4 linked regions of the Homo sapiens genome follow. The protein of the gene in region 2 purifies or fractionates together with the protein of the main gene of each other region. This does not show direct contact. Each region holds a gene or a part of one and is shown on either strand. Other genes may lie near its edges. The genes, in order: MTERF3, IGF2BP3, PTCD1 and LRRC59.

Region 1 (7,847 bases), on a different chromosome or scaffold from region 2:
CTTGCTGGTCTAGTAAAACGTTTTGTGAGTTGTGCAGCATTAATGAGGCTCCTCAACTTAACTGAGTTAAACCATCTGGGTATCTGTTGGGCTGACAAAGCCATTTTTCTTAGTCTACAAAGGAAAGATATAACCGTCAAAAGAAGAGAAATTTAATTTACTTAAATGTTTAAAACGGTATTCAAACAACAAAAAGATAAACTGGAAATTATTTTTTTCTAATTGAAAGGTGTTTAAATATATATTTAGTCTAAAATAGTGAGATGTTTCTTATGTACAGGAAAAGCCAACAACAAGGCAATCTCAGTTACAAACCAACAGACAGGAACTTCTGAGTGGAAAAATAAAGATATACTTTACAATTTAAAAACAAAATGCAATGACACTGGTGTAAGAAAAATGCTTAAAACAAAAATCTGCAAATGTTCAAGTGACAGCAGACCTCACTAATCTGTTAATTTAATCATTTAAAGAGAATAAGCTGATGCAAATAAGTGTTCTTGAAATTTGGTGTGAAGGGTGTTTCCGCAGCACATTGCTGATCAAAGTAACACTGAATTATTCAAATGCATTTTATGTATATAAATTTGTCCCAAAATGAAAAAACAGAAATCTACTGTGTCCTAAACAAATCATCAAAATATTATCATTGATATACAGAACAGTGAAAGCAGTTTCTTGCTTCATTCTCAGGGCTGAACACTGTTGATTACTTCACAGATAAAGCTGTTCTTCCAAAGGGAATTGAACAAAACCAGTTTTGTCAAGTTTTGTTTCACTGTAGGAAAGGAGAAAAAAGCCTTCAAAAAGAAAAGGTCAAAACTAGTAACAAAACCAAGTGACAGAAATAAATAAGCAACCAGCAATTAATACCTGTATATTTTGACTGAAAAAGTAGTTTTCAAAAATATTTTTATCAGGAAAGGCTAGTGCTATGTTAAACTCCAGGAATATGAAGGGATTTTATATTTAGCCAGCTAATTAGAAAGGTAAATTTGATGCATATAATCTTACGTTAAATAACATTATCCATATAAAACACAGGATGGAGTCAGGATATAAGAAATGCTCAATAAATGTTAGCCATTATTATTGGTTACACAACCAAATACAAAAATTCTGCTGAATTAATTGCTGCCTACAACTTTATACTTTGTTTTTCTGCATACTGGAATTCAGCTTGTTTTATGCTCTAAATTAGACCAAATACTTGAGGGTCTAATCTTTTCTTGGAGATCTGTAGTTTTGGGAAGTTTGCTGAAAGAGATTTTACAAAAGTGAAAGTTTCCTTTCATTCTGCAATTATTTATTATTATTATTATTATTATTTTTTTTGAGACGGAGTTTCGCCCTTGTTGCCCAGGCTGGAGTACAACGGCACCATCTTGGCTCACTGCAACCTCTGCCTCCCAGGTTCAAGTGATTCTCCTGCCTCAGCCTCCCGAGTAGCTGGGATTACCCACGCCCGCTACTATGCCCGGCTAATTTTTTGTGTTTTTAGTAGAGACGGGGTTTCACCATCTTGGCCAGGCTGGCCTCGAACTCCTTACCTCAGGTGATCCACCCAGCTTCCCAAAGTGCTGGGATTACAGGCGTGAGCCACTGCGCTCGGCCCATTCTGCGATGATTTTAGAAAAGAAGTAAGTATTCACAATACCCTGCTGGGATAGGTGGTTTCTGTTAGATTTTGGTGGGAAATGGGACTCCAAATGTGCCAAGTTTTCCCTCAAACCTACAACATTCATTCTCTGCACGGTAGTCATAAGGGCACTAAATTGAAAGTCAGAAGACCTCGGTTGTGCTACCTTGACAAGGCTGTTTCTGGCAGCAGTCTAACAAAAGCAGCAGTCTAGCCCATGATGTGGGGGGTGGGGGTGGGGTCAATAACTATTCTTCAAATAATGCTTTTTTAAAAGGCTAGGGGTACAATAAGATGATTCTTAAGGCCCCTATCAGCTCTAACATTTTTTGACGTCTAAGCACTTCATCCTACTTCAAACTCCTGAAATCCCAAATTCATCCTGAAGCCTTTCCACACTCAATACCACTTAAACATCAGGAAGACTCACTTTCAAATTTCACCCCGTCATTAAAAGATCTTTGTGCATACAACTAATGTTTATCCTTGCATTTTTATTTACAAGTGCACTATCTTCTCCACATCCTTTCATTGCTGCCTACACATCTTAACAATTGATTAACTGTTCATGCACGAGAGCAGAGCTGGGTCTCATCCCTGGATCCATCCTTCCGGGGACTATTCTCCACTTTCCCAGAGCCTTGTACTGCTCTAATGTTTGCGGAATGGAAATAAATCAATGGCAAGTACAGTTAACTCACTTGCTTACACAGTATGCAAAAGCGGGTAGGGGATGTGCAGATGTGTATAAAAGCCCTGTAAGGTGGTAACCTGAAGTCTTCTAACAAGGTCCTTTCATCAGGAAAATTACAGAAAACCCTTAAAGAAACTGAAGTCTCTTAACAATTCATATATACTGTTCTCAATGAGTGCCTAGTGCTTCGCTAGAAAAAGGCACTGAAATAGAGTTCAAGATTTCTACCTACGAAATGCTATAAATGAAATCAGGAGAGAAAGGGAGGTTATGGGGGCAGCTTCCTAATAAAGGGTCTCTCAATACTTCCCAGGCCATTTTAGCCCACTTCAGTTCCCCAAACTTGCGCAGGAAGGCAGAGCCCCCTCCTGAGGCTTCTCACACTGCGCTAATTAGCCAGCATGGTTGAGTTTTCACTACATCAGCCAGGGAAAAACACAAAACAAAACCAATCACCCTCTACTGGGCCGCGAAAACCTAAAGGCCCTTGAGGCCCTGGGGCGCGGTCTGGACGCGGGTGCGCCGGAACCTGAACCCTCGCCAGGAGCGCGATCCTCGTGCTGGGGCAGCTCCTGCTTTACCTGTGGCGAGGCCTGCTTCCCGTAGCGGGTGACCCCGGGACCGACCAACTCGCTGGGCCGCACGTCCCGTCCCGCCGCGCCGCACGCCGGCTCCTCAGCCCGCCCTACACAGCGCAGCCGCGCTCCCGGGCCCACGTGGGCCGCGCCCGGAGTGGGCGAGACCATGTGCCGGGTTACGCGGGGAGACAGCGGGCTACGTGCTCTGAAAAGAGCCAGCCAGGGGCCCCGGCTACCCTTCTCCGGCTCGCTATTCCTCTGAAGTCCTGTGGACTTGGAGTCTGAAAATTCCTCGAGTGGTAGAGATGCCTCAGCTAGGATGACAGCGTGGGGACGGCCGGCGGCGTCCCCTGCCCCAGGCCGCGGTGGCGGCGCCGCGACCCCGCCCTCTCGCGCCTGTCCTTCCCTCTGCTCCCAGCCTTTGCTGGGCGCCAGACCCGGCTTTGCCGTCCGGCTATTAGCCTACTGTGGCTAGTCACCCCCGGGGTCCCGGCCTTCTCGGGCTGGGGCCGCCGCCACCGCGGCAGGACGGGGAGGCGGGCCATGGCGTCCTGCGTGGGGAGCCGGACCCTAAGCAAGGATGATGTGAACTACAAAATGCATTTCCGGATGATCAACGAGCAGCAAGTGGAGGACATCACCATTGACTTCTTCTACCGGCCGCATACCATCACCCTGCTCAGCTTCACCATCGTCAGCCTCATGTACTTCGCCTTTACCAGGTGGGGCGGCCCAGCCGAGCGGGGGGCGCGTCCAAGGGCTAGGGAAGAGGCGGGAGGGAGGGTGGCGGGGAGGGGGGCCCGGCATGGCTCTGGGTGAGGAAGTGGGCTGGCTGCTCCACGCACACGCACTGGCAGCCCGCCGCCCACGCGGCCCCTCCGCCCGCCCGGTGTCTCACAGTACGCTAGCCTGCTCCCCTACCCCTCAGTGCCCCTTCTCCATACAGCGCCTCCGGTTACACGGGGAACGCACGCGAGTCACCTAGCACGATCGCCCCCTCACCCACCGCACTCAGCATCGCTCCACACAACATCACGACGCGGGCCCCTCCTCTGCACTGCTCCAGCCTTCGTCCCTACCCAGCACACCGCATGAATCATGTCGTATGCACCACTTTCAGCACACACCGCTACACATACAAAGCACCCCAATCCACAGCGCCTGCAGGCACCATACACAGGCCCAGGACACAACCTAGATCCCTTCCTGTGGAACTCCGGTATTCGGCACTATCCGTAACGCACAAAAAATGCACATGTGTGCTGCATACACGGTCTTTCCTGTGCAGCACTTCCCGTATGCATTGCACACAAGTCATCCAGCATAACACTTCCCCCAGCCTCAAACACTACCATCTGTACCACGGCACAAACTGCCACTCTAAACACACACCTCACAGCGGACCTTTCCTTTCCAGCACAGCCCAATACCCATCATCTGTGTACATGGCTGCACAGACACCAGCCCGCCACACATCACGCGGTGCATACCCTGCTCACTCATTACCTAACATACGTGCTGAAATGTGATCTTGTCCAGCAATTTTAATGGTGCCTGGGGTATAGTAACTGCTGTGTGTTAAATGAAACACATAAACCTCACACAGCATAACACAACTCTCTTATTCCCTGGAAAACATACACACACATTCTAATATATACCGGTTCATAGGAGCTGCCCAGCCCAAATCTTGAACACACCTCATGTTAACTCTGGCACTGCGCCTGTGGCTCCTCATTCCTAACCTAGAGAACTAATTCATCCTTGGTTCATAAGGAGGTACACACCGTGGTTCCTACTTAGAATGATTTATACTTTCTGAATGAACCTCTTTAAAGAAAGGGAAGTCACACCTCTCTCACCATTATGGCTTAAAAGGCCAACTTAGAGTAGAGTAGTTTTTGAGCCACACTTTTGGTTTCAAAACTGGCTGTGTGTCCTTAATTAAGTTGCATAACCTTGCTCTGAGCCTCAGGGGCCACACTCGTAAAATGGGGATGAAATATCTACTTATATAGGGTTATGAAAATTAAATGAATGTGTGTGAATGCATTTAGCAGAGTCCCTGGAGCACAATGTACAATTCATGTCAGTTACTTCTCTCCCAGTATTTTTATCCAACAATCAAGGTTCTCTGTCAGGGTCAGCAGAACATGTGTAGGGATATATATATTGGGTAGTCACAAGGATTGAGAGAACTTCTAGTATTTGGGAGGGGGAGCAGTTAACGGATACTAAATGTATTGTGACATATGTGACAGCGCTGTACAACATAAAGGGAATTGTCTTCTACACAGTCGTTTGCATACACACACACAAGTGCCGGTGGTGCCTCCCTTAGGAATAACTGCAGTTTTTCAAATCCTCATAAAACTAATATCCTCCCACATCACACTTGTTCCTTACCTCTGGGATTCATTTGACTCTTGGTTCTTGTTATGTAAGTGTTTATCCATTTGAAAGAATCTACCTAAAGGTATAAAGCTTAAGTAACAATTGCTTACTCTTTAATGATTGAGGGATCTTGCCACTATTACTATAAAATCTGCTAAAGCTGTGCAGCAGGTGAAGACCAGACCTTTCCACAGTACCTGACCAGACATATTTCTAGCTTTGGAGAGAAATGAATCATGTCCCTAACTATGGTTACTTTCAAATACTTCATTATGTTGCCTGATTTTATCACTTAATAGCTGTGTGGCCACATAATTTTGCTAGGCCTCAGTTTCCTTATCTGTATGTAAAATGAAAATATCAATACATTAATCTGTCGGGATTATTTGTCATGAGGATTAAATTCATCTTTTTAGATAATCTGTTTAGCTCAGTGCATGGCAAGTATTAAGTGCTTAATAAACATTAGTGGTTATTACGATGTGATTTCATTGAATGCTACTGTCTTCTAATTTATATTTATTATTGAACGAGGATGTAGTATGCTCTGTAATTGAGAAGGATAAAAGCACTGGAAAAATGGACATTAGATAACATACATACCTGTTTGATGTTAACTTCAGTTTAACTTCATCTTAGGTGTGGGCTTGAAATAATGAAATTAGTGAGGGAGTTTCTCTGGAAATTAGAAAAATAATTATGGTATTTTGTTTTAAATAATGAGAAGCAAGAATGAGCCATTTGTTTCAGCCTTTCATTTTTAATATTATTCTAGGTCCTTTCAAAATAGGTTTCTCTTCCTCTTTTCTGATATAAAAAGTCACAATCTTCTGAAATTTCCTTTTACATCATATTCTGTCAAGGCAGTCAATAAATTGCAGCAGTGAAAGTATAAGAAATGAATACGAATTTTAACAGCTTGTCCAAAATAATAGAAGAACCATAATCTGAACTTCAGACTGTAGTCTCATCCAAAAATGTTAACAATTTTATTTCTTCCACTAATTTCATAAAGAGACAGAAATCACATAATGAAGAACTAATTAATAACAAGTTTCACTTTATATAAAATCATAAGCACCATTAATAGAATTCGTACTTACTAAATCTTACTCATTTTTTGTAATGATTTGTGACTTAAGTGGGGCATTACAATGATAGCTCTATATTCCTCCATAAAGACGGAAAGTAACGACTTCTTAAATGAAAATGTATCCTATGTTCTTTTGTAATGATTAACTCCAGTGCCTTATTATTTATTTTATAAGATTTTAGTTGGACAATTGTTCAGTGCAATTCTTTCAGTAAAACTTAAAAGATATGTCTTAAAGTTTGTTTTGCAAAGACTAGTTGTCTAAGAGAACGAGGAGATAGGATTCTTTTGGGATGTCATATAACCAGTATGTGAGAAACAGTACTTGGGTACTGTCACATGCTTCAGAGATCCAGCAAGAATTTAAAATTACAGAGGATTAGATACCTTGCACTGAAGTCTGAGACAAGTTTGGATTTGTCAAGTAGTTCTTTTGTTAGATGGCCCTTAGGTCAATTCCCTGTTAAACCATAGTATTTAAATATCTCCTGTCTTTATCACCATCATTAAAAATAAAGTTAGATACTACCTAATCATTTTCCTATTTGAAAAAGCTCATTTCCAGCCTGGACAACATGGTGTAACCCTATCTCTACAAACAAACAAAACAAAACAAAACAAAACAAAACAAAACAAAAATTAGCTGGGCGTGGTGGCATGCACCTGGAGGCTGAAGTAAGACGATCACCTGAGCCTAGGAGGCAGAGGTTGCAGTGAGCTGAATCACGCCACCATACTCCAGCCTCCACCCTACTCACTCGACAGAATGAGACCCTGTCTCAAAAGAAAACCAAAAACTTATTTTCCCACATTTTAGAATAAGTAGGCTGGGTGCAATGGCTTACGCCGGTAATCCTAGCACTTTGGGAAGCCAAGGTGGGAGGATTGCTTGAGGCCAAGAGTCCAAGACCAACCTGGCTAACATAGCAAGACCCCATCTCTATTAAAAAATAAATAGTATTTTTATAAATAAATGCTTACGCATATGTCTTAGAAGTTTGTTAGCAAAGTAGGGCAAGGAAAACTTTTGTCTCAAGCTCAGAGTATAATAATTACCTATAAGATACCCTCATATTTACTCTGCATTCAGGGGTTGGTAAACTTGGAAATATTGAATGCCTTTAGTTTAAAAAACTCAAGCTTTAGATTTAGAAAACACCAGAATCTATTAATTCACATTCAAAGAAGCCCACCTCTCCTTAAGAGGCACCTGCCATTAAACAGTAGAATCAGCCTTTGTTAGCACTTGTCCAACAAAAATTGTTACTTACCTAGAAGACGTTGCCTTTCTGCGGATTTGTGTACTTAAGTGATCATCAATTTGTCTATGCTTCATTTCTCCTCGATTTAGAACTAAGGAGACAGGCAAGGACAGGGAAATGGACAGACTGATTGATTGACTGATTGATTTGTTAATAATGGTTTTTACTTAATTTCCCTTATTGGCTT
Region 2 (7,027 bases):
TGTGCACTGCTTCTGTACTTTAGAACTGTTAGTTGACTGGTAGCATTACTGAACCTTGAACCTTGAATTGGCCTTTTTAGGAGCCCAGTCACTGTGAACTCTTGAGCAAATGTGTCCTTTATCCCTGCAAGGACTATTTGAAAAGAGACCCAGGAAGGGCACAACTGGCTTGAAGTGGGAAGTAGTGAAGGAATGAGGTACATAGATAAAATCTATTTATGAATGACCTTTCAGGAGTTAGCCTACAAAATATTTTCTAATTTTTTCATGTATAAAATGCAAAGGGGGCTGGGCGCAGTGGCTCACGCCTGTAATCCCAGCACTTTGGGAGGCCAAGGCGGGTGGATCATTTGAGGTCAGGAGTTCAAGACCAGCCTGGCCAACATGGTGAAACCCTATCTCTACAAAAAAAAAAAAAAATTAGCCGGGTGTGGTGACAAGTGCCTGTAATCTCAGCTCCTTGGGAAGCTGAGGCAGGAGAGTAGCTTGAATCCGGGAGGTGGAGGTTGCAGTGAGCCGAGATCGTGCCATTGCACTCTAGTCTGGGCAACAAGAGTGAGATTCCATCTCAAAAAAAAAGCAAAGGGAAGGCACAGATGGAAGGAATAAGGAATTCTGTGGGAAAGCATCTTAGGGCATCTTACCACTAAAGTGAATTAGCTCTCTCCTAATCCTGTCCTGTGCTTGGATGTGATAACTATTGAATGACAGTGGTAAGGTTTCATACAATTTAGTCATATGTAACAAAATTCAGCTTTTCTCTTAAACACTTCACTGTGTATGTGTTTAAGGAGTGAAACCTACATAGATAAGGTGTGGAGCTGGCGTCCTTGAGTTCTGTTGTGTTTGATATGTAGCCCAGAATTTCATTTACTTGTTAAGAATCTACCTTGAGAGTGGTAGGGGGCTCTTACTTAATTTTTAATGCAAGCATGTCCCGCTATTCTAATATGATTAAACTTTACAACATCTACATATCTTTTAAATCCATAACTCAGTGACATTTTAAAGTTTAAGGCAACAGTAGAGAAAAGTGAAATTTTAAATACCACTGTTTTCAGGATGACTGTATGAGATCTTCTTGACCTATTAGGTAAGGTCTGGTCAACTTCTTATGGTAGCTTTTCCTTAAACTTTCCTGGTATTCCTACTGCATGAGAAGGTGTCCTTCCTAAAGCTAATGTTAACAAAAGCCTGATTTGTAGCAAATAAACATGGGTGTCCTGGCTTTCTTTTCTAACAGCAATCAGAAACGGAGACTGTTCATCTGTTTATCCCAGCTCTATCAGTCGGTGCCATCATCGGCAAGCAGGGCCAGCACATCAAGCAGCTTTCTCGCTTTGCTGGAGCTTCAATTAAGGTACTGTTCTACCAGCTGTGGTTCTCTGGTTCTTTAAGTAAGTTACAGAAATATGAATCTTCTTGCCACTTTATAATTTGAATAGAATGTAAAAGACACTGTTAGGGTTACATAAGGATATGAAGAAACCCCCAAACAACAGTGGCTTACACCAAGGAGGCTAACTTCTCTGTGCAGAAAACACAGTTAGGAGGTGAACATCCGGGCTGGGTGTTGGCTCTGCCCCCACCAAGTCCTTGGACCTAAGTTCCTTCCAAGCCACCTTCCCCAGGTACGGCCTTGGTCCCTCTTGGTTCCAGATTGACACCATTCAGTGCTCCAGGAATCAGGTCTGTTGCCCAGCCAGTAGGAGAGGAGAACATAATAAAGAGCTTTTCTTCTAGGGAGGTTTCTTGTTAGCTACTGTGGGATATTTCTACCTATATTTCCATTGCCCAGAACTTGGCCAGACGAAGTTGAAGGGGCAAAATACAGGCTATGCACAGTCAGCTAAACATTTTGTAACTACAGAAGGTAACATACCAGAGGACAAATAATGGTGTCTGCCGTAATAGATAACTGTGTGTTCTGAAGATTCTGTATTTTGATGCCTTATTTAAGGAAAATAAAGGTTGGCCAGGTGCGGTGGCTCACACCTGTAATCCCAGCACTTTGGGAGGCCAAAGCAGGCAAATTGCTTGACCCCAGGAGCTGAAGACCAGACTGTGCAACATGGTGAGACCCCATCTCTACAAAAAAAAAAGTGTAATTAGCCAGGCATGGTGGCACACACCTGTAGTCCCAGCTGCTTGGGAGGCTGAGGTGGGAGGAACACTTGAGCTTGGGTGGTTGAGGCTGCAGTGAGCTATGATCACACCACTGCACTCCAGCCTAGGCCACACAGTAAGACCCTGCCTCAGACAAACAAAGGCATGTGGTGTGCAGTATCCTTGAAACTTAGGGTACAGAGATTCCTAGAGTGTGTTGCATACACAGGAAGCCCAAGGAGCCCTGATGCAAGTGGGCCAAGGACCATACTTTGAGCACCACTGGTGTAGTGAACACAGGCAATGGAGACAGACCCAGCTCTCCCTCTAGCTCTGTTAGCTGTGTGATCATGGTCCAGATAACTCAATTTCTCCAGCCTTCCATTTCCGCATTTGTGAAGTGGAGGTAATACTACTTCATCAGGACGTGGTGAGGATTAGCTGAGAGACAGCACGTGGAGGTCTCCATTAGGGCCCGGCACAGAATAAGCATATAGTATATGCAGGAGGGAGGCCTAAATTGTGAACCCACAGGAATTGCTGCCTCTCCCTAATTTCCTTCACGAAGGCTTTAATTCTGCATTTCAGCCAGTCACATGCAAATGTTAGGCTGGTTGGCCCAAGATGCCTATCAGTGATACCTGAAAGTATCATAACTTGTTGTTGGGTCTGTTACAGATTGCTCCAGCGGAAGCACCAGATGCTAAAGTGAGGATGGTGATTATCACTGGACCACCAGAGGCTCAGTTCAAGGTATGTGCTCTAGAGTATGTGCTATGTCCACAGGTAACAAATGCACAGGTAGTCCATAACCTGGCGTCTCCCTTAAATATGTCTAAATCTCAGAAAGAGTCAATGGAAATTCTTATCTAAGAGCTGAGTAGAATCACACTCAAAATTATATTTCGAAATTAACCAAAAGTCTTTAATTTTAAGAGTTCTGTACTGGTTGCTGGATTTACCTGTCTCTCAAAGGTTAATTTTGCTTAATGGTTTGTAATCCTATGCTAAGGTGAGACCTTAAAATTTACAAACCTGCCAGGTTAATATGCCTTGGAAACTTGTTTTCAGATGTTTTCCCTCCTGTCCCTGAGATTGCCTAGACTTGAATTAAAATGCCCCCTTTTTCCTTACCCTTGGATTATCTCTGTTAGACCCTGCCCATAGACTCTACAAATCTCTCTAATCCCTGGGATCTTAGAGATAGGAATGGCAGGAGCTCTTGTAGCATTTGTTCTGGTATGAACCATTGCACGTTTAGTGGGATTTGAGGTCTTTGGGGCTGCAGTGTGCCTTTCAATGTCTACTGAGAGATGGTAGAGCTGAGACTTGGCAGCCAGGCTGCTAGTTCAAATCCTAGCTCTGCCATTTGCCTTGTATGACATTGGGCAAGTTACTTAACCTTTTTCTGTAAAACCAGGGATAAGAGCACCTACATCCTAAGGTAGTTTAAGGTTTACACAATATATGAAATGTTTAGAAAAGTGCCTAACACATGGGCAGCACAAAATTAGCGTGCTGGGGGTATTCAACAGACTATGGATGAATCAGACTAAGACCATGCCAAATTCATAAATATATTCCTTTTAGTGTATGATTTCTCCCACAAAATTTAGTATGGGTGTCTTGTCTTAGAACATTTAGTGGCTGTGTAAGAAGACAACTATTTAACCTTAAGCTGTAGTTTTTTTTTTCTCTTTTTTTTTTTTTTTTTTTTGAGACAGAGTCTCACTCTGTCGCCCAGGCTGGACTGCAGTGGCGTGATCTCAGCTCACTGCAAACTCCACCTCCTGGGTTCAAGCGATTCTCCTGCCTCCGCCTCCCGAGTAGCTGGGATTACAGGCATGTGCCGCCACGCCCAGCCAATTTATTTTTAGTAGAGATGGGGTTTCACCATGTTGGCCACACACTCAAACTCCTGACCTCAAGTGATCCGCCCACCTTAGCCTCCCAAAGTGCTGGGATTACAGGCATCAGCCACTGTGCTCCTGGCCAAGCCTTAGTTTTTTTAGCCTTAAAGTGTAACAGTAACTAGTAACAGTGCATACAGTTCTCTCCCCACCCCACCTCTCTCCCTTAAATCAAACAAAAAAAATCACTTTCTTTGACTTCTATTTTCTCTGGGCCATTTTTTCACTAAAAACCCAAAGCTGCTTTCACTTATGTGAAGAATGGGAAACGAAGGAGGTGCTTTGAGATGTGGGTGGTTAGGTGAAGAAAGAAAATCATGTGAAGAAATTTATTCCTTCACAGCAGCCTTGTGATCCAGGCAGTTCAAATCTTAACTCAGAATTGTTGAAAACTGCTTCCTATCCCAAACTCTCAGGGTCACTTTTAGTTTGAAATCTTAAAAGATAAATACAAACATGTCTTTCCTTGGTGCTGAGCTTTTAGTCTTATAAGTAGAATTACTGTCCTGCAACTCCTATGATGTTTGTATGATAGGAACTTCAAAGTTCTTTCCCTGTATTCACTAATAAAACTCATGTTTTATAGTTAACTTAAATGTAACACTTAAGCCATAGTAGTTAAATTTTATTTATGTGATTGGTGACAATGCTAAATGAATGTTTTACTTTAGAGATCTAAGGAATGGTAAACCACCTACCCCGTATTTTTCCTTACAAATTCAAGAGCTTCAGTTTTGGAGGATAGTGTATATCCCTAGTGTCTTTTTGACTGTCTTAAGTAATAGTAATATCTACGTCATTGGCCTGAGGCATTAAGGATCATTGGAATATAGGGTATCAAGATGAATTTTGTTTTGTCGGTAGTGCCCTAAAATGAGCTCAGCTTTCTGAATCAGTGAACGCGTGTTGGGTACTATTGTTTTTTGTGGTTTACCCTGGCAGCTTGTCAAACCAACTCTCAGGCTCCTTTCTGCTTTGCTGTATGTAATAGGTTGTTTATATATAATAGGTTGTTTATATAGTTGCATGCAGTAGGTGATAGGATGTATTGACTCTAAATATCAGAAGTGTCTTGGCCAGGCGCGGTGGCCCACGCTTGCTATCCCAGCACTTTGAGAGGCCTAGGTGGGTAGATCACTTGAGTCCAGGAGTTCCAGACCAGCCTGGCCTACATGGCAAAACTCCATCTCTACTAAAAATACAAAAATTAGCCAGGCATGGTGGTGGATGCCTGTAATCCCAGCTACTTAGGAGGCTGAGGCAGGAGAGTCACTTGAACCCAGGAGACAGAGGTTGCAGTGTGCTGAGATCGCACCACAGAGAAAGAGACTCTGTCTCTAAAAAAAATAAAATAAAAAAATAAAAAAAAATAAAAGGCAGGGCACAGTGAGTGGCTCATGCCCATAATCCCAACACTTTGGGAAGCCAAGGTGGGTGGATCACCTGAGGTCAGGAGTTCAAGACCAGCCTGGCCAACATGGTGAATCCCCGTCTCAACTAAAATAACAACAAAAAATTAGCTGGGTGTGGTGGCGGGCACCTGTAATCCCAGCTAGTTTGGGAGGCTGAGGCAGGAGAATGGCTTGAACCCGGGGGTCGGAGGTTGCAGTAAGCCGAAACCATGCCATTGCACTTCAGCCTGCATGACAGGGTGAGACTCTGTCTCAAAAAAGAAAAAAGTGTCTTACCTTGATGTTGTAGCCTCTTTAAAATATTCAAAGGAAAAACCACCTTTCTAAGAGTATGAAACACATTTAAATTGAAAACATTTTTCTCAGCAGGTTTCTAACTGGCCCATGTAGATGTGAGCTTGACTTTTAGTGAGCTTGGCATAGCTGACTCTGCAGTTCTGTCTCTTTTGCTCAAAAAAAATGTGACCAGGTGTGGTGGCTTGCACTGGTAATACCAACACTTTGGGAGGCCAAGGCAGGACTCTTGAGCCCAGGAGTTTGTGATGAGCGTGGCAACATAGCAAGACCCCCATCTCTATAAAAATTAGTGGCGCAGTGGCTCACACCTGTAATTCTAGCACTTTTGGAAGGCTGAGGTGGGCACATCACTTGAAGTCAGGAGTTCGAGACCAGCCTGACCAACATGGTGAAACCCCATGCCTACTAAAAATGCAAAAATAATTAGCCAGGTGTGGTGGCTAGTGCCTGTAGTCCCAGCTACTCAGGAGGCTGAGGCAGGAGAATCACTTGAACCTGGGAGGCGGGGGTTGCAGTGACCCAAGATCGTGCCACTGCACTCCAGCCTGGGCAACAAAGTAAGACTCCGTCTCAAAAAAAAAAAAAAAATAAGTCAGGTGTGGTGTTGCATGCCTGTAGTCTGCTACTCAGGAGGCTGAGGTAGGAGGATCGCTTGAGCCCAGGAGGTTGAAGCTGCAGTGAGCTATGATTGTACCATTGCACTCCAGCCTGGACAACAGGAGGACCCTGACTCCAACAAAAAGGAAAGAAAAATGCAACTGATGTCTCATGGCCAGCATGAGAAGTTTTACCTATCACAATTTTAGTACGAATGGCCATTTGCCCACAAAAATTCGTTTTTATTAGGTTATTAATTGCCTTTAACTGTTTTCATCAGAAGAATATGGTTTATCCTTCTTTCACCAAGCATTCAGTTGCCTCTACTGTGATGGGCAGTAGTTATTGTCAACCTTTTAGGACTTCTAACTGCTCTCTTCTATGTTATTTTCAACAATCTATGAAATGTAGATGTATCACTGCAAAGGGCTATCCCACTTGGATTTGGGCCATCTTTCAAGTTAACTGACCTTTTCCATTTCATACATGAATGACACTAATAGGATGTGTTTTCATCTGCAGGCTCAGGGAAGAATTTATGGAAAAATTAAAGAAGAAAACTTTGTTAGTCCTAAAGAAGAGGTGAAACTTGAAGCTCATATCAGAGTGCCATCCTTTGCTGCTGGCAGAGTTATTGGAAAAGGAGGCAAAACGGCAAGTACTTCAGCAAAACCTGTGCAGTGGTATGAAAGGGAAAGCGTTGAA
Region 3 (7,027 bases), about 76 Mb from region 2:
TTGCTGGCAACACAGCAGAGGGTCCTGACTTTATAATTATGCAAAAGTGATATACATTCAGTAGAAACTAACCCCGCACAAAGTCGATCCTTACAGAGTTACATCCTGATAAAACCATTGCAAAGTTGAAAAATCCTGTGTAGAATCATCTTTAAGTCAGGGACATCTGTCTGTGACTTAAATATGATATGCTTTAGGTCTATGATAGTCTTGTGACTGTCGAGTTGAACCCCTAGTGAGCCCTACGCCAGAGGGAAGAGACAATCCACTAGGAAGATATGCACAACATGTGATCAACAAAAAACCAGTACCCAGAATATATAAAAAACCCTGGAATCAATGAGAAAAGGCTTGCAACCAACAGTTCAAAGCACAGACACAGTTCAAAAATGCCCAGCTATGCCTTCAGCCAGACACAATTTCCATTGCTGTCCCACCTATTTGTAGGAAGCCCTCAAAATGGCATTCAGGCGTGACACCTGCACGGCGTTCCTGACCCCGCACCCTCTAGCTGTGTGTGTCCCTGCCCATTTACTTGTTTCCGCCCCATCCGGGCTGTGCTTCAAGCCATAGTGGCTCTCGATGCTCCGGAGATGCTCAGCACAGAGTGTGATTCGATGGACCCAAAAGCCAAACCCCAGAGCCTGATAGCCTCAGAACAGCAGGGAGAGGCTGTGGCCGTGACAAAGCAGATTCCATGACTCTGCCCTGCTCCTGCTGATACAGGAGGTTGAAAGAAATTATTTAGGCAGATAATAAGGGCAACAGAGTCCTTGGCGAAATTTCCCTTTTAATAAAAAGCAGCCCCCAAATAATTTCTTTTCTAACAAAGAGCAGCCTGAAAAATCGAGCTGCAGACATAGATAAGCAAACTGGAAGCTTGCAGGGGTAAATGCTGGCGGCTGTGCCAACAGAAAAGGGCTACCTGGGAGCCAGATATGTTCAACGTGGGGGCCCCATCTTCCCTTCTTTGTTGCCATGTGTACAGTAAAGAACCAGGCAACATGGCGATGGCCACCTGTCTGCATAATAAAAGGTTAGGGTGGGGCACCAGCTTTTATACATGCTATGTAAATGGCACACCTGGTCCAACTAATCTTTTGCGTCCTCTGTAAATCAGACACCACCTCCCCAAGCTCATCTACAAAACCTCTGCATTACACTATGGAAGTGGCAACCCACTTCTCTGGCACCTCTCTCTGCAAGGAGAGAGCTCTTCTCTTTTTTTTTTTTTCACCACCACACCGGGCGAGAGCTCTTCTTTCTTTCGCCTATTAAACTTCAGCTCTTAACCTCTTTTTTTTTTTTTTGAGACCAAGTCTCCATCTATCGCCCAGGCTGGAGTGCAGTGGCGCGATCTTGGCTCACAACAAATCTCAGGTATTCACCCCAGACAATGACACCACTTCACTGCCTGCCCAGTCCCTGAGCAAGCGACAACCTGTTTGGAGTACCCAGCAACGTGCAGGTGCTGGGGACCCAGATGAGCACAGCAGACAGCCTCTGCCTCCAGAAGCCTGATACAGGGAAGGCCAGGGCTGCCCATGAGCACATGATCCAAGACTGTAGGACACGGCATAAAGGAACAGAGTGGGAAGGGGGAGGGGAGACTTTCATCCCAGGTCAGAGCGGCAGCCAGCTGGGCATGTCTGAGGGCCACTTAAGCAGAGACCTCCAGGAAAAGTGGGTGCCACCTGAGGCAGCGGGAACACCAATCCCGAAGCAGGCAAGAGGTTGGTGGCCTCTGCGAACTGACAGAAGGCCACTGGGACAGACAGAGAAAGCAAACGCAAGGCTGAGACATGAGATGAGCCACGCAGACAGGGACTCGCAGGCTGTGGTCTACAGACTTGGGTACTGCTCCTAAGGGAAGCTGCTGGACAGTTTCAAGCATGGCAACACAATCCCAAGGGCCAGAACCGGGGTTGGGTGGTGGGGGGAGGGGGTAGCAATGGTGAAGGAGCTGATGAGCTTTTGAGCTTGGGGCACACACCCGGTCAAAGGTGGGAGGGTACTGGGCTGCAAACTCCAGCTGGCGGATGACCACTTCGTTCACCGGGACCCTGTTCTGCTTCATGTCCTTCAAGATGCTGATGAGATAGGTGTAGTTCAGCTTCCTGATGGCCGCGTTGATGAGGGCACTGTAGATGTGAGTGTTGGGGGTCACCTGGGACTTCTAGAACACAGGGACATCGTAGAATCAAGATGATGGCAGCCATTGGGACCCAGCAGCTCCCACCCTCTGTCAATCAAGCTGGCTCCCGGGACCAGCGGCCAGGGCCAGCAAGGCAAACTTGGCAGCAACAATGTGCTGAATATCCCTCTCCAGCAGGAAAGCCAAGCCCAGCCCCTCTGCTCAGCCCTAAAGAAGCTGCGGAAAAGGACGCTCGTGCTGCTCTCAGACACCGACTGACTCAGGCAGAAAATGATGTGGGAGACACCACCTCCTTGCTCCCTGGGGTGGGCTTCCTGTGACGCACGGTCACCAGGTGGTGGTTGGCCTAGAAAAGTGCAAGCCTTGGCTGGGTGAGCCCGGTAGGGTCCAGGAAAACAGCCAGAGGATGATGGACCTGGGGACACCGACAACCCAGGACGCAGCCTCTGCTGTGGTCGGATGAAATCCACGCAGCACTTCCAATGGGGGTTAGGTGGGAGGCACAGACCTCGGGGGCTTTGAAAACTGCCCACGGCCCCTCAGGAATTCTGAGAATCCCTGCCATACCTCTAGAGTGTTGGGGCCGAGGCCTGTGCCCAGCCCTGTGTCAACCCACGGCCACCTTCTTCCGGATGGGAACATCCGTGTGTCTCTACGCCCAGCCCTGAAGCACTCACTGGGGTCTGCTTCCCCCAAAATGGGACCAAAGACCAGAAGGTCATTGACCCCACTCTCTTTGCCCCATGCACAGTTCATCCTCTCCAGGTGGGGGGTCTGCAGACCCCTCAAACTTTCCTCCTGAGCTGCAGAGTGCTCCTGAGCACCATGGGTGTCCTGCCCAGGCCCGAGTCCACTCACCTTCATGTCTGTGAGAAGCTGTAGACCGTCCTTCGGCCTGTGGCACCCGATGGCCAGGTTGCAGAATGTCTGCAGGTTGGGGACGAGGCCCCTCTTTGCCAGGACCGGCAACAGCGCCTTGGCCCCCTCCAGGTCTCCCAGCTTGCTCTTCTTTCTCACCAGCGTGTTAAAGAATGTCAGGTCGGCCTCTACCTGGTGCTCATCCAGGAGGGCCAGCAGCAAGGACTCTGCAGGACTCCCGGACTCCACCACCTCGGCCAGTAGCGTGAGGGTCCTGATGTCGGGCTGCTGCCTGTGCTCTGCCATCTTGCTCAGGAAGCCCTCCAGGCCCCCTATCAAGGCCAGCCGGTCAGCTGGGGTGGTCACCGTTCCAAAGGAGACCACTGTAGGGGGAACGGCCCCGGGGGTCAGGAGGTTGACTTCCAGCTCCACGGGAGGTGGCTTCAGGGCCACTGCGGTGAGGGCTGCTGTGTGGCTGGGCTCTGCCTTAGTATCCACCTCTGGTTGGGCCTTGCCGGGCACTCTGGCTTCCGGAGGCTCTGGAGGCCCAAGTGCCTGAGAAGGTTCCAGAAACAGCTGCCTCTCCAGGGCCTCCACATGCAGCATGGCTGACATGAGGTTGCCTGCCTTGGCCTGGGCTGTCCTCCTTGGCCGCTGCCTGCTCACTGGGGGCTGAAGCACAGTCGCCTCCTCCCTGGGCTTCAGAAGCAGCTCTGAGGCCACCTGGGGGTCCCCTAGGCCACAGTCCCGAGCTGCCACCAACAGCAGGTTGTAGCTGTCCCGGCTCGGCTGTAGCCCTAGACTCAGCATCAGCCGCCACACCTGCCACGGAAGAGACAAACGTCAGCTGGGTGCTCCCATTCAGCAGCTGGGCGCAGGGCTCACGCCTGGAATCCCAGCACCTTGGGAGTTTTAGATGGGAGGATCCCTTGAGATCAGGAGTTCGAGACAAGACCGGGCAACATAGCAAGACCCTGCCTCAAAAAAATACGCCAGGCGCGGTGGCTCACGCCTGTAATCCCAACACTTTAGGAAGCTAAGGCAGGCAGACTCCTTGAGATCAGGAGTTCGAGACCAGCCCGACCAACATGGTGAAACCCCATCTCTACTAAAAATACAAAAATTATTGGGTGTGGTATTGCATGCCCACAGTCCCAGCTACTCAGGAGGCTGAAGTGGGAGAATCACTTGAACCCAGAGATCGAGGTTGCAGTGAGCCGTGATCATGCCACAGCACTCCAGCCTGGGTGACAGAGCGAGAGTGTCTCAAAACAACTGTAAAACATTTAAAAAATTGGCCGGGCCTCTCCCTCTCCCTCTCCCTCTCCCCCTCCCTCTCCCCATGGTCTCCCTCTCCCTCTCCCTCTCCCTCTCCCCACGGTCTCCCTCTCCCTCTCCCCACGGTCTCCCTCTCCCTCTTTCCACAGTCTCCCTCTGATGCCCAGCTGAAGCTGGACTGTAACTGCTGCCATCTCGGCTCACTGCAACCTCCCTGCCTGATTCTCCTGCCTCAGCCTGCCGAGTACCTGCGATTGCAGGCGCGCGCCACCACGCCTGACTGGTTTTTGTATTATTTTGGTGGAGACGGGGTTTCGCTGTGTTGGCCAGGCTGGTCTCCAGCTCCTAACCGCGAGTGATCCACCAACCTCGGCCTCCCGAGGTGCCGGGATTGCAGACGGAGTCTCGTTCACTCAGTGCTCAATGGTGCCCAGGCTGGAGTGCAGTGGCGTGATCTCGGCTCGCTACAACCTCCACCTCCCAGCCGCCTGCCTTGGCCTCCCAAAGTGCCAAGACGGCCGCCACCCCGTCTGGGAAGTGAGGAGCGTCTCTGCCTGGCCGCCCATCGTCTGGGATGTGAGGAGCCCCTCTGCCTGGCTGCCCAGTCTGGAAAGTGAGGAGCGTCTCTGCCCAGCCGCCATCCCATCTAGGAAGTGAGGAGCGCCTCTTCCCGGCCGCCATCCCATCTAGGAAGTGAGGAGCATCTCTGCCCGGCCGCCCATCGTCTGAGATGTGGGGAGCGCCTCTGCCCCGCCGCCCCGTCTGGGATGTGAGGAGCGCCTCTGCCCGGCCGCGACCCCGTCTGGGAGGTGAGGAGCGTCTCTGCCCGGCCGCCCCGTCTGAGAAATGAGGAGACCCTCTGCCTGGCAACCGCCCCATCTGAGAAGTGAGGAGCCCCTCCGCCTGGCAGCCGCCCCGTCTGAGAAGTGAGGAGCCCCTCCGCCCGGGAGTCACCCTGTCTGGGAAGTGAGGAGCGTCTCCGCCCGGCAGCCACCCCGTCCGGGAGGGAGGTGGGGGTCAGCCCCCGCCAGGCCAGCCGCCCCGTCCGGGAGGGAGGTGGGGGTCAGCCCCCCACCCGGCCAGCCGCCCCGTCCGGGAGGGAGGTGGGGGTGGTCAGCCCCCTGCCCGGCCAGCCGCCCCGTCCGGGAGGTGAGGGGCACCTCTGCCCGGCTGCCCCTACTGGGAAGTGAGGAGCCCCTCTGCCCGGCTAGCACCCCGTCCAGGAGGGAGGTGGGGGGGTCAGCCCCCCGCCCGGCCAGCCGCCCCGTCCGGGAGGGAGGTGGGGGGTCAGCCCCCCGCCCGGCCAGCCGCCCCGTCCGGGAGGTGAGGGGCGCCTCTGCCCGGCCGCCCCTACTGGGAAGTGAGGAGCCCCTCTGCCAGGCCAGCCGCCCCGTCCGGGAGGGAGGTGGGGGGGGTCAGCCCCCCGCCCAGCCAGCCGCCCCGTCCGGGAGGTGAGCGGCGCCTCTGCCCGGCCGCCCCTGCTGGGAAGTGAGGAGCCCCTCTGCCCGGCCACCACCCCGTCTGGGAGGTGTGCCCAGCGGCTCATTGAGAACGGGCCATGATGACAGTGGCGGTTTTGTGGAATAGAAAGGGGGGAAAGGTGGGGAAAAGATTGAGAAATCGGATGGTTGCCGTGTCTGTGTAGAAAGAAGTAGACATGGGAGACTTTTCATTTTGTTCTGTACTAAGAAAAATTCTTCTGCCTTGGGATCCTGTTGATCTGTGACCTTACCCCCAACCCTGTGCTCTCTGAAACATGTGCTGTGTCCACTCAGGGTTAAATGGATTAAGGGTGGTGCAAGATGTGCTTTGTTAAACAGATGCTTGAAGGCAGCATGCTCCTTAAGAGTCATCACCACTCCCTAATCTCAAGTACCCAGGGGCACAAACACTGCAGAAGGCCGCAGGGTCGTCTGCCTAGGAAAACCAGAGACCTTTGTTCACTTGTTTATCTGCTGACCTTCCCTCCACTATTGTCCTATGACCCTGCCAAATCTCCCTCTGCAAGAAACACCCAAGAATGATCAATAAAAAAAAAAAAAAAATTGGCCGGGCGCGGTGGCTCACGCCTGTAATACTAGCATTTTGGGAGAGCAAGGCGCCGGATCACGAGGTAGGAGAGCGAGACCATCCAGGCTAACATGGTGAAACTCTGTCTCTACTAAAAATACAAAAACAAAATTAGCTGGGCATGGTGGTGGGCGCCTATAGTCCCAGCTACTCAGGAGGCTGAGACGGGAGAATGGTGTGAACCCAGGAGGTGGAGCTTGCAGTGAGCCGAGATCATGCCACTGTACTCCAGCCTGGGCGACAGAGCAAGACTCCATCTCAAAAAAAAAAAAAAAAAATTAAAAACATTAAAAAGAAAAAGAAAAAAAAAGCTCTCCAGCGGGGAGCTGTGGTTCACACCTGTAATCCCAGCACTTTGGGAGGCCCAGGCGGGCAGATCACATGAGGCCAGGAGTTCAAGACCAGCCTGGTCAACATGGTGAAACCCCGTCTCTACTAAAAATACAAAATTAGCTGGGCGTGGTGGCGGGCGCCTGTAATCTCAACTACTCGGGAGGCTGAGGCAGGAGTATCGCGTGAACCTGGGAGGCGGAGGTTGCAGTGAGCCAAGATCGCTCACTCCAGCCTGGGCAAGAGTGAGACTCCATCTCAAAATAAATGAATGAATGAATGAATGAATGACTCCTGGGTTGCACCTGCAGAAGTGCTAATGGGGGTGTGGGAGGG
Region 4 (7,867 bases), on a different chromosome or scaffold from region 2:
AAAAATACAAAAAAAAAAAAAATAGCCAGGCGTGGTGGCGGGCACCTGTAGTCCCAGCTACTCGGGAGGCTGAGTCAGGAGAATGGCGTGAACCCAGGAGGCAGAGGTTGCAGTGAGCCGAGATCATGCCACTGCACTCCAGCCTGGGCAACAGAGTGCGACTCCGTCTTAAAAAAAAAAAATAGACCTAGGTAAATTCTCAGATAACCCTGATGGCTATATTGATGTTTTACAAGGGTTAAGACAATCCTTTGTTCTGACATGGAGAGATATAATGTTACCGCTAGATCGGACACTAACCACAAATGAGAGAAGTGCCGCCATAACTGCAGCCCGAGAGTTTGGCGATATCTGGTATCTCAGTCAGGTCAATGATAGGATGACAACAGAGGAAAGAGAACGATTTCCCACAGGCCAGCAGGCAGTTCCCAGTGTAGACCCTCATTGGGATGCAGAATCACAACATAGAGATTGGTGCCACAGACATTTACTAACTGGCGTGCTAGATAGAAGGACTAAGGAAACTAGGAAGAAGCCTATGAATTATTCAGTGATGTCCACCATAACACAGGGAAAGGAAGAAAATCCTACTGCCTTTCTGGAGAGACTAAGGGAGGCATTGAGGAAGCATACCTCTCTGTCACCTGATTCTATTGAAGGCCAACTAATCTTGATAAGTTTATCACTCAGTCAGCTGCAGACATTAAAAAAAAAACTTCGGAAGTCCACCTTAGGCCCGGAGCAAAATTTAGAAACCCTATTGAACTTGGCAACTTCGGTTTTTTTATAATAGAGATAAGGAGGAACAGGCAGAACAGGACAAATGAGATAAGAAAAAGGCCACCGCTTTAGTCATGGTCCTCAGGCAAGCGGACCTTGGAGGCTCTGGAACATGGAAAGGCTGAGCAAATCGAATGCCTAATAGGGCTTGCTTCCAGTGCGGCCTGCAAGGACACTTTAAAAAAGATTGTCCAAGGCCGGGCGCGGTGGCTCACGCCTGTAATCCCAGCACTTTGGGAGGCCGAGGCGGGCAGATCACGAGGTCAGGAGATCGAGACCATCCTGGCTAACACGGTGAAACTCCATCTCTACTAAAAATACAAAAAATTAGCTGGGCGCGGTGGTGGGTGCCTGTAGTCCCAGCTACTCAGGAGGCTGAGGCAAGAGAATGGCGTGAACCCAGGAGGCGGAGCTTGCAGTGGGCCGAGATCACGCCACTGCACTCCAGCCTAGGCAAAAGAGTGAGACTCTGTCTCAAAAAAAAAAAAAAAAAAAAAAAAGATTGTCCAAATAGAAATAAGCCACCCCTTGTCGATGCCCCTTATGTCAAGGGAATCACTGGAAGGCCCACTGCCCCATGGGACGAAGGTCCTCTGAGTCAGAAGCCACTGACCAGATGATCCAGCAGCAGGACTGAGGGTGCCTGAGGCAAGCGCCAGCCCATGCCATCACCCTCACAGAGCCCTGGGTATGCTTGACCATTGAGGGCCAGGAGGTTAACTGTCTCCTGGAAACTGGCGTGGCCTTCTCAGTCTTACTCTCCTGTCCCGGACAACTGTCCTCCAGATCTGTCACTATCCGAGGGGTCCTAGGACAGCCAGTCACTAGATACTTCTCCCAGCCACTAAGGTGTGACTGGGGAACTTACTCTTTTCACATGCTTTTCTAATTATGCCTGAAAGCCCCACTCCCTTGTTAGGGAGAGACATTCTAGCAAAAGCAGGGGCCATTATACACTAGAATTAGGAGAAGGGAAAAGGGTAAATATATATACAGACTCAAAGTATGCTTACCTAGTCCTCCGTGCCCATGCAGCAATATGGAGAGAAAGTGAATTCCTAACTTCCAAGGGAACACCTATCAAACATCAGGAAGCCATCAGGAGATTATTATTGGCTGTATAGACACCTAAAGAGGTGGCAGTCTTACACTACCGGGGTCATCAGAAAGGAAAGGAAAGGAAAGAAGAAATAGAAGGGAACCGCCAAGTGGATATTGAAGCCAAAAGAGCCGCAAGGCGGGACCCTCCATTAGAAATGCTTATAGAAGAACCCCTAGTATGGGGTAATCCCCTCCAGGAAACCAAGCCCCAGTACTCAGCAGGAGAAATAGAATGGGGAACCTGACGAGGACATAGTTTCCTCCCCTCAGGATGACTAGCCACTGGAGAAGGAAAAATACTTTTGCCTGCAGCTAACCAATGGAAATTGCTTAAAACCCTTCACCAAACCTTTCACTTAGGCATTGATAGCACCCATCAGATGGCCAAATTATTATTTACTAGACAGGCCTTTTCAAAACTATCAAGTAGATAGTCAGGGCCTGTGAAGTGTGCCAAAGAAATAATCCCCTACACTACAGGCCATACATTTCAATCCCTGTATCTTTAACCTCCTTGTTAAGTTTGTCTGTTCCAGAATCGAAGCTGTAAAACTACAAATGGTTCTTTAAATGGAGCCCCAGATGCGGTCCATGACTAAGATCTACCGTGGACCCCTGGACCAGTCTGCTAGCCCATGCTGTGATGTTGGTGACATCAAAAGCAACCCTCCCGAGGAAATCTCAACTGCACAACCCCTACTATGCCCCAATTTAGCAGGAAGCAGTTAGAGCGGTCATCGGCCAACCTCCCCAACAGCACTTGGGTTTTCCTGTTGAGGGGGGCACTGAGAGACAGGACTAGCTGGATTTCCTAAGCCAACTAAGAATCCCTAAGCCTAGCTGGGAAGGTGACCGCATCCACCTTTAAACATGGGGCTTGCAACTTAGCTCGCACCTGATCAATCAGGTAGTAAAGAGAGCTCACTGAAATGCTAATTAAGCAAAAACAGGAGGTAAAGAAATAGCCAATCATCTATCGCCTGAGAGCACAGGAGGAGGGACAATGATCGGGATATAAACCCAGGCATTCGAGCCGGCAACAGCAACCCCCTTTGGGTCCCCTGCCATTTTATGGGAGCTCTGTTTTCACTCTATTAAATCTTGCAACTGCACACTTTTCTGGTCCGTGTTTGTTACGGCTTGAGCTGAGCTTTTCCTTACCGTCCACTACTGCTGTTTGCTGCTGTCGCAGACCCGCTGCTGACTTCCACCCCTCTGGATCTGGCAGGGTGTCTGCTGGGCTCCCGATCCAGTGAGGCGCCCATTGCTGCTCTGGATCAGGCTAAAGGCTTGCCATTGTTCCTGCGTGGCTAAGTGCCTGGATTTGTCCTAATTGAGCTGAATAGAGCTATAACACTCATTGCATGGCCCAAGATTCCATTCCTTGGAATGCGTGAGGCCAAGAAACCCAGGTCAGAGAACAAGAGGCTTGCCGCCATCTTGGAAGTGGCCCGCCACCATCTTGGGAGTTCTAAGAACAAGGACCCCTGCCACCCACCCCCCGTAACAATTGCACTTACTTTATTTGGTGTTCATAGTTTCCCTCTGAGACAAGATTTTTTATTTTTTATTTTTTTAGAGATGGGGTCTTGCTATGTTGCCCAGACTGGTTTTGAACTCCTAGCCTCAAATAATCCTCTCATCTTGGCCTCCCAAGTATTGGGATTACAGGTGTGAGCTATCCTGCTCGGCCCCTCTGAGATAAGCTTTAATATCCCTATTTCAAAATGAGTAAACTGAGGTTTGGAGTGGGTAAAGTGCTTCCTTCCTTCATTCATTCATTCATTCATCCATCCATCTATTCATTTATTCAACAGACATCTGAATGAGTAGCTACCCTGCATCAGGGTATGCCAACTCTGGGCATACGAAGATGATTAAGACAAAAATCCCTGTCCTCACAGTCCAGAATGAAGGACAGACACATAAAGATGAGTATAATACAAGGTGGATCATGAATTGTAGCTAATATTTATTGGGTACTTACTAAGTGCCAGTGACTGCTGTAAGCTCTTGGTGTGTTTTACTCCTTCAGTTCTCCCCAACCTCTGTTAGCTACATGTCTCATAGATTGATTCATAGATAAGACTGAAGCCTGGTGATTGTCTACGGTTTTATAAGTAGCAAGTGGCAGAGCCAGGATGAATACCCAGTGGATAGGTATTAGTGCCAGAGGTCCCACTTGGCCATCAAGCTCTACTGTCTCTGATGATAAAGTAGCAAACAGGGACCTAAGTTGGTTGGGGGGGGCGCTAACTCAGTCTGGCATTCACGGTGTTCAGGGGAGATTTCCTGAAGGACTAAGGAATTAGCTAGACAGAGGTGAGTGGGGGGGAGGGAGGGCCATCGCTGGGGAGGGCCAGACGTGGGAGCCACCTCCTGGAAATCTACACAGCATCTAGGCCAGGCAGGGACTGGAGCGTGTGAGGAAGCTGCGAAAGCAGGCAGGACCCAGCTTCCAAAGGAAAGTGGTCCGTATCCTAGAGGTAGCTGCAAGTTTGAAGGGTTTTACGTAGGGGAGAGACTTGGCCAGATTTTTAGAAAGATCACCGGGGAGCTGGGTGAAAGTGGATGGAAGGACAGAGACAAGCACTGAGGCAGTGAGTGGGGAGGAGAGAGGAGAAATTCAGGAAGAAGAGTTTTCCCCATGATGGTTATTCGGGGGTTAAGTAGAGGACAGGGAGCAGTTTTAGAGGACACCCAGCTTCTGCTCCTAATCAGGGGGATTGGGGTGATCTGATGAGGTCAGTATTGGATGTCAACCCAGTCTTCTGGCGCCCAGTCCGTGCCCTTTCGCCTCGTGGCACTGCCAGCAATAATGCCCGCGGGCCACGGGTGAACGTGAACCGAGCTCGCAGCCTCCAACCCCACCCCTCCGGCGGCGGCGACGTGCAGTGCATCACCCTGGGCACCAGGGGGCGTGCCCGCACACGCTCGGGCCGCTCTGGCCCAGCCCATCTCAGTGGTCGCGGAAGGTGACGTGGACACGGAAGTGGTCGTCGTCGCGGCACCGGTGGGAGCTAGGCGCGAGGCTCGGAGTGCGGCCAGCGGGCGGAGGCGGTCTCGCATCGGCGGCGACGGAGGGCTCAGGCGTCGTCGTTTGGGTGGGGGGCCGCTGAACTGACAAGCGACATTTCAGCTCCTTTCACCCGCCGGAACCCCGGAGCCGGGGCCCGCTCAGCCGGCGTTACCATGACCAAGGCCGGTAGCAAGGGCGGGAACCTCCGCGACAAGCTGGACGGCAACGAACTGGACCTGAGCCTCAGCGACCTGAATGAGGTCCCGGTGAAGGAGCTGGTCAGTATCGTCCCGCGAGGCCCAGGCGCCCACCTTCGCCGGGCGCTGGCCCCTACGTGGGCCACTTACTTTCCTCTTCTCTAAAAGCATCAGTTTCCTTTTCTTTAAAAAGAAGCGGGGTGGTGGGACTAAGTCCCCTAGGAGGCCGCGTCCAGCCCAAGGTTCTTCCCGGGATGTACACGTGTCACTTTGGCGCAGTTCCAGAACATAGGGAAGATCTGCTTCTCTGGCCCTAGGCTTTTTACAGGCTAAGAAGCGAATCTGTCACCTTTGCGGGGCTTTCACAGCGCCCACCTCCGTGCCCGACTCTGAGTAGGAGCACACGGAGCAGTTACTGGATGTATTCGAGAATGAATGAGTGACTTGTTCCAGGGGAGTAGGCCTCCTGGTAGACCTGGGTGTGGCCCAGAACCTGGCTCTTCTAGGAAGCTGGCAATTCCAGCTGGCTGCCCGAGCCCTGAGGCAGCCTAACTCGAAGAAAGTAAAGTCTCCCCCCAGCTTGGCTGGTAAACTGTCATCTGAATTCCGCTGAAACTGGCGGGAGTCCCTTTCGCCCCTCTCTCCCCCAACCTTTCCCCTGTAAACTGAAGCTTACAGCTCCAGAGAGATAGCAGGCATCTAGTTTTGTCAGCGTGGAGCTAGTTCCCACATCCCTCCTTTTCCCACTCCGTTCCCCCTCCCACCCGCGCCAACGCCCTACTAGACTCACTTTGGGTGACCCACACTTTGCTTTCTGCCGTTGATAAATTACATTTGCCTTGGGCGCTGGGCCCAGTCTTTCTTCCACCGTGGACGGGTATTACAGTGGTTAGAACCGGGTTCCTAGCTCCTCCCAGCTCCATTGCTTAATAGCCGAGTGCCCTTGGCAAGCTAGTTAGCCTTTATGCCTAGATCTCCTCATCTATACAATGGTGATAATAGTTTCCATCTCATACGCTTATTGGGAGGTTAAATACCATTGTAATGGAAAATGCTTGGAAGGAGCAAATACTGATACTTGTAGCTGTTGTTGTGTTTTTCCCGCTGTAGTATTTAAAACTTTTTTAGGTGGTCAAACTTCACTTTTACGACTTTGTGACAGAAAGTGCAGGTTGCCAGAGGATCCTTAACTGAATATATGCCTCCTTTTCTACCCCAGGAAGATAGATGGCCAGCCTTATTTCACCCTGCCCTAGGACTGCTCTCTGAAACCATATACTCCAGGCATCTGAACAGTCCAGCATTAACCTTAGGGAGAAAGTTTTGCTGAGCTTGTCCAGCCTGGACACCATGGGAAAATAGAGATGGGCTGTGAGGGCCTTTTTTTTTTTTGGATGATGGAGTTTTGCTGTTGTTGCCCAGGAGTGATCTCGGCTCACTGAAACCTCTGCCTCCCGGGTTCAAGCGATTCTCCTGCCTCAGCCTCCCGAGTAGCTGGGATTACAAGCGTGTGCCACCATGCCTGGCTAATTTTCTATTTTTAGTAGAGACAGGGTTTCTCCGTGTTGGTCAGGCTGGTCTCGAACTCCTGACTTCAGGTGATTGCCTGCCTCAGCCTCCCAAAGTGGTGGGATTACAGGCGTGAGCCACCGCACCCGGCAGGGCCTTGTTTTTTCACTCTGTCATTCACTCCGCTACTTACTCGATCAGTCATGATTCAGGCAACATGTATGGATATTGAGTACCTGTTCTGAGGAAGGGCCTGAACTGGGGAATATGGAAATTGCAAAGCTTTATTAGACACTGTCCCTGCCCTGAAACCTAATAAGAGGGACGCTGGGTAATATTTATTTTTAAAGTGCTAGGAATAATGTCTAAGAATCTAAATTTTGCTTGCCTGCCTGCCTGCCTGCCTTCCTTTCTTTTTTTTTTTTTTTGAGATGGGGTCTCACTGTGTTGTGCAGGCCGGCCTCAAACTCCTGAACTCCTGGGCTCAAGCGATCCTCCTGTCTCAGCTTTCTGAGTAGCTGAGACTATGAGACTACAGGTGTGAGTCCCTGTGCCTCGCCTAAGGTTTACCTTCTTGGAGGTTGTACAGCCACATCCCTTCTCTTTGCATTCTTCCTTAGATCATGGTTGACTGGCTTATTTTTCCTCTTATTCCCAGGAACATTACTCTTTACTGCCATTTTAAAAGGCCTTTCCTAATCATGGGAACATTCTCTGGAAAATGCTTCATTAACATATGTCAGTGAATTGTTCCAGATGTTGGTCTGACATGTTTTTCTCATCCTCTTTTACCTAGGCTGCCCTTCCAAAGGCCACCATCCTGGATCTGTCTTGTAATAAACTGACTACTCTACCGGTAAGATTGGCATGCAGCCGTGACTCCTTCTGGTGCCTTGGATGCATCTCCTTCCTGTTTCGGGGGTTGAGAGGGGGGTGGGAGGGTGTCATAAGGTGTAATTTCAGGATAGGCCTACAGGCAGGCTATAGCTAAATCTGAGTGTGTAGGGGAGGCACAGTGGAATGGAGTGGTTGGTCTCAGTGGGAAAGGAATTGAGATGGAGGCCTCATTCTTCAGAACAGTGGTAAAGTCAGTCCACAGAAAACTAAACTCAACAGGGTGCTGAGTAACTTACTGGGCTCATCTTTTTTCTACATTATTTTATTCCTCTGAAAAATAGTTTACCTCCCTACTGCATAGAGGATGCTAGAGACCATTTTGTAAGTTGCTCTGCGTTCCAGGGAGAAAGCTGTGAACAGCTTC

What was found.
Region 1: the proteins of IGF2BP3 (region 2) and MTERF3 purify together in Homo sapiens (co-immunoprecipitation; 2 studies listed by BioGRID and IntAct, with this or other methods). This does not show direct contact.
Region 3: the proteins of IGF2BP3 (region 2) and PTCD1 purify together in Homo sapiens (co-immunoprecipitation; 2 studies listed by BioGRID and IntAct, with this or other methods). This does not show direct contact.
Region 4: the proteins of IGF2BP3 (region 2) and LRRC59 purify together in Homo sapiens (affinity purification with mass spectrometry; 2 studies listed by BioGRID). This does not show direct contact.

Annotation. Positions count from the first base shown.
Region 1 is NC_000008.11:96,258,587-96,266,433, forward strand, and holds the start of MTERF3 (transcription termination factor 3, mitochondrial isoform 1 precursor), read right to left. Parts: upstream 3,025-7,847; 5' UTR 2,915-3,024; intron 115-2,914; 5' UTR 105-114; coding exon 1-104. Other genes in the region: PTDSS1 (phosphatidylserine synthase 1), read left to right, coding at 3,455-3,633.
Region 2 is NC_000007.14:23,313,471-23,320,497, reverse strand, and holds part of IGF2BP3 (insulin-like growth factor 2 mRNA-binding protein 3), read left to right. Parts: intron 1-1,243; coding exon 1,244-1,360; intron 1,361-2,784; coding exon 2,785-2,859; intron 2,860-6,844; coding exon 6,845-6,976; coding exon of another isoform or gene 6,977-7,027. UniProt on the Homo sapiens protein: RNA-binding factor that may recruit target transcripts to cytoplasmic protein-RNA complexes (mRNPs). This transcript 'caging' into mRNPs allows mRNA transport and transient storage.
Region 3 is NC_000007.14:99,421,782-99,428,808, forward strand, and holds part of PTCD1 (pentatricopeptide repeat-containing protein 1, mitochondrial), read right to left. Parts: intron 3,836-7,027; coding exon 3,014-3,835; intron 2,177-3,013; coding exon 1,994-2,176; intron 1-1,993. Other genes in the region: ATP5MF-PTCD1 (ATP5J2-PTCD1 fusion protein), read right to left, coding at 1,994-2,176, 3,014-3,835. UniProt on the Homo sapiens protein: Mitochondrial protein implicated in negative regulation of leucine tRNA levels, as well as negative regulation of mitochondria-encoded proteins and COX activity. Also affects the 3'-processing of mitochondrial tRNAs.
Region 4 is NC_000017.11:50,394,524-50,402,390, reverse strand, and holds the start of LRRC59 (leucine-rich repeat-containing protein 59), read left to right. Parts: upstream 1-4,867; 5' UTR 4,868-5,073; coding exon 5,074-5,178; intron 5,179-5,887; exon of another isoform or gene 5,888-5,984; intron 5,985-7,398; exon of another isoform or gene 7,399-7,402; coding exon 7,403-7,462; exon of another isoform or gene 7,463-7,467; intron 7,468-7,867.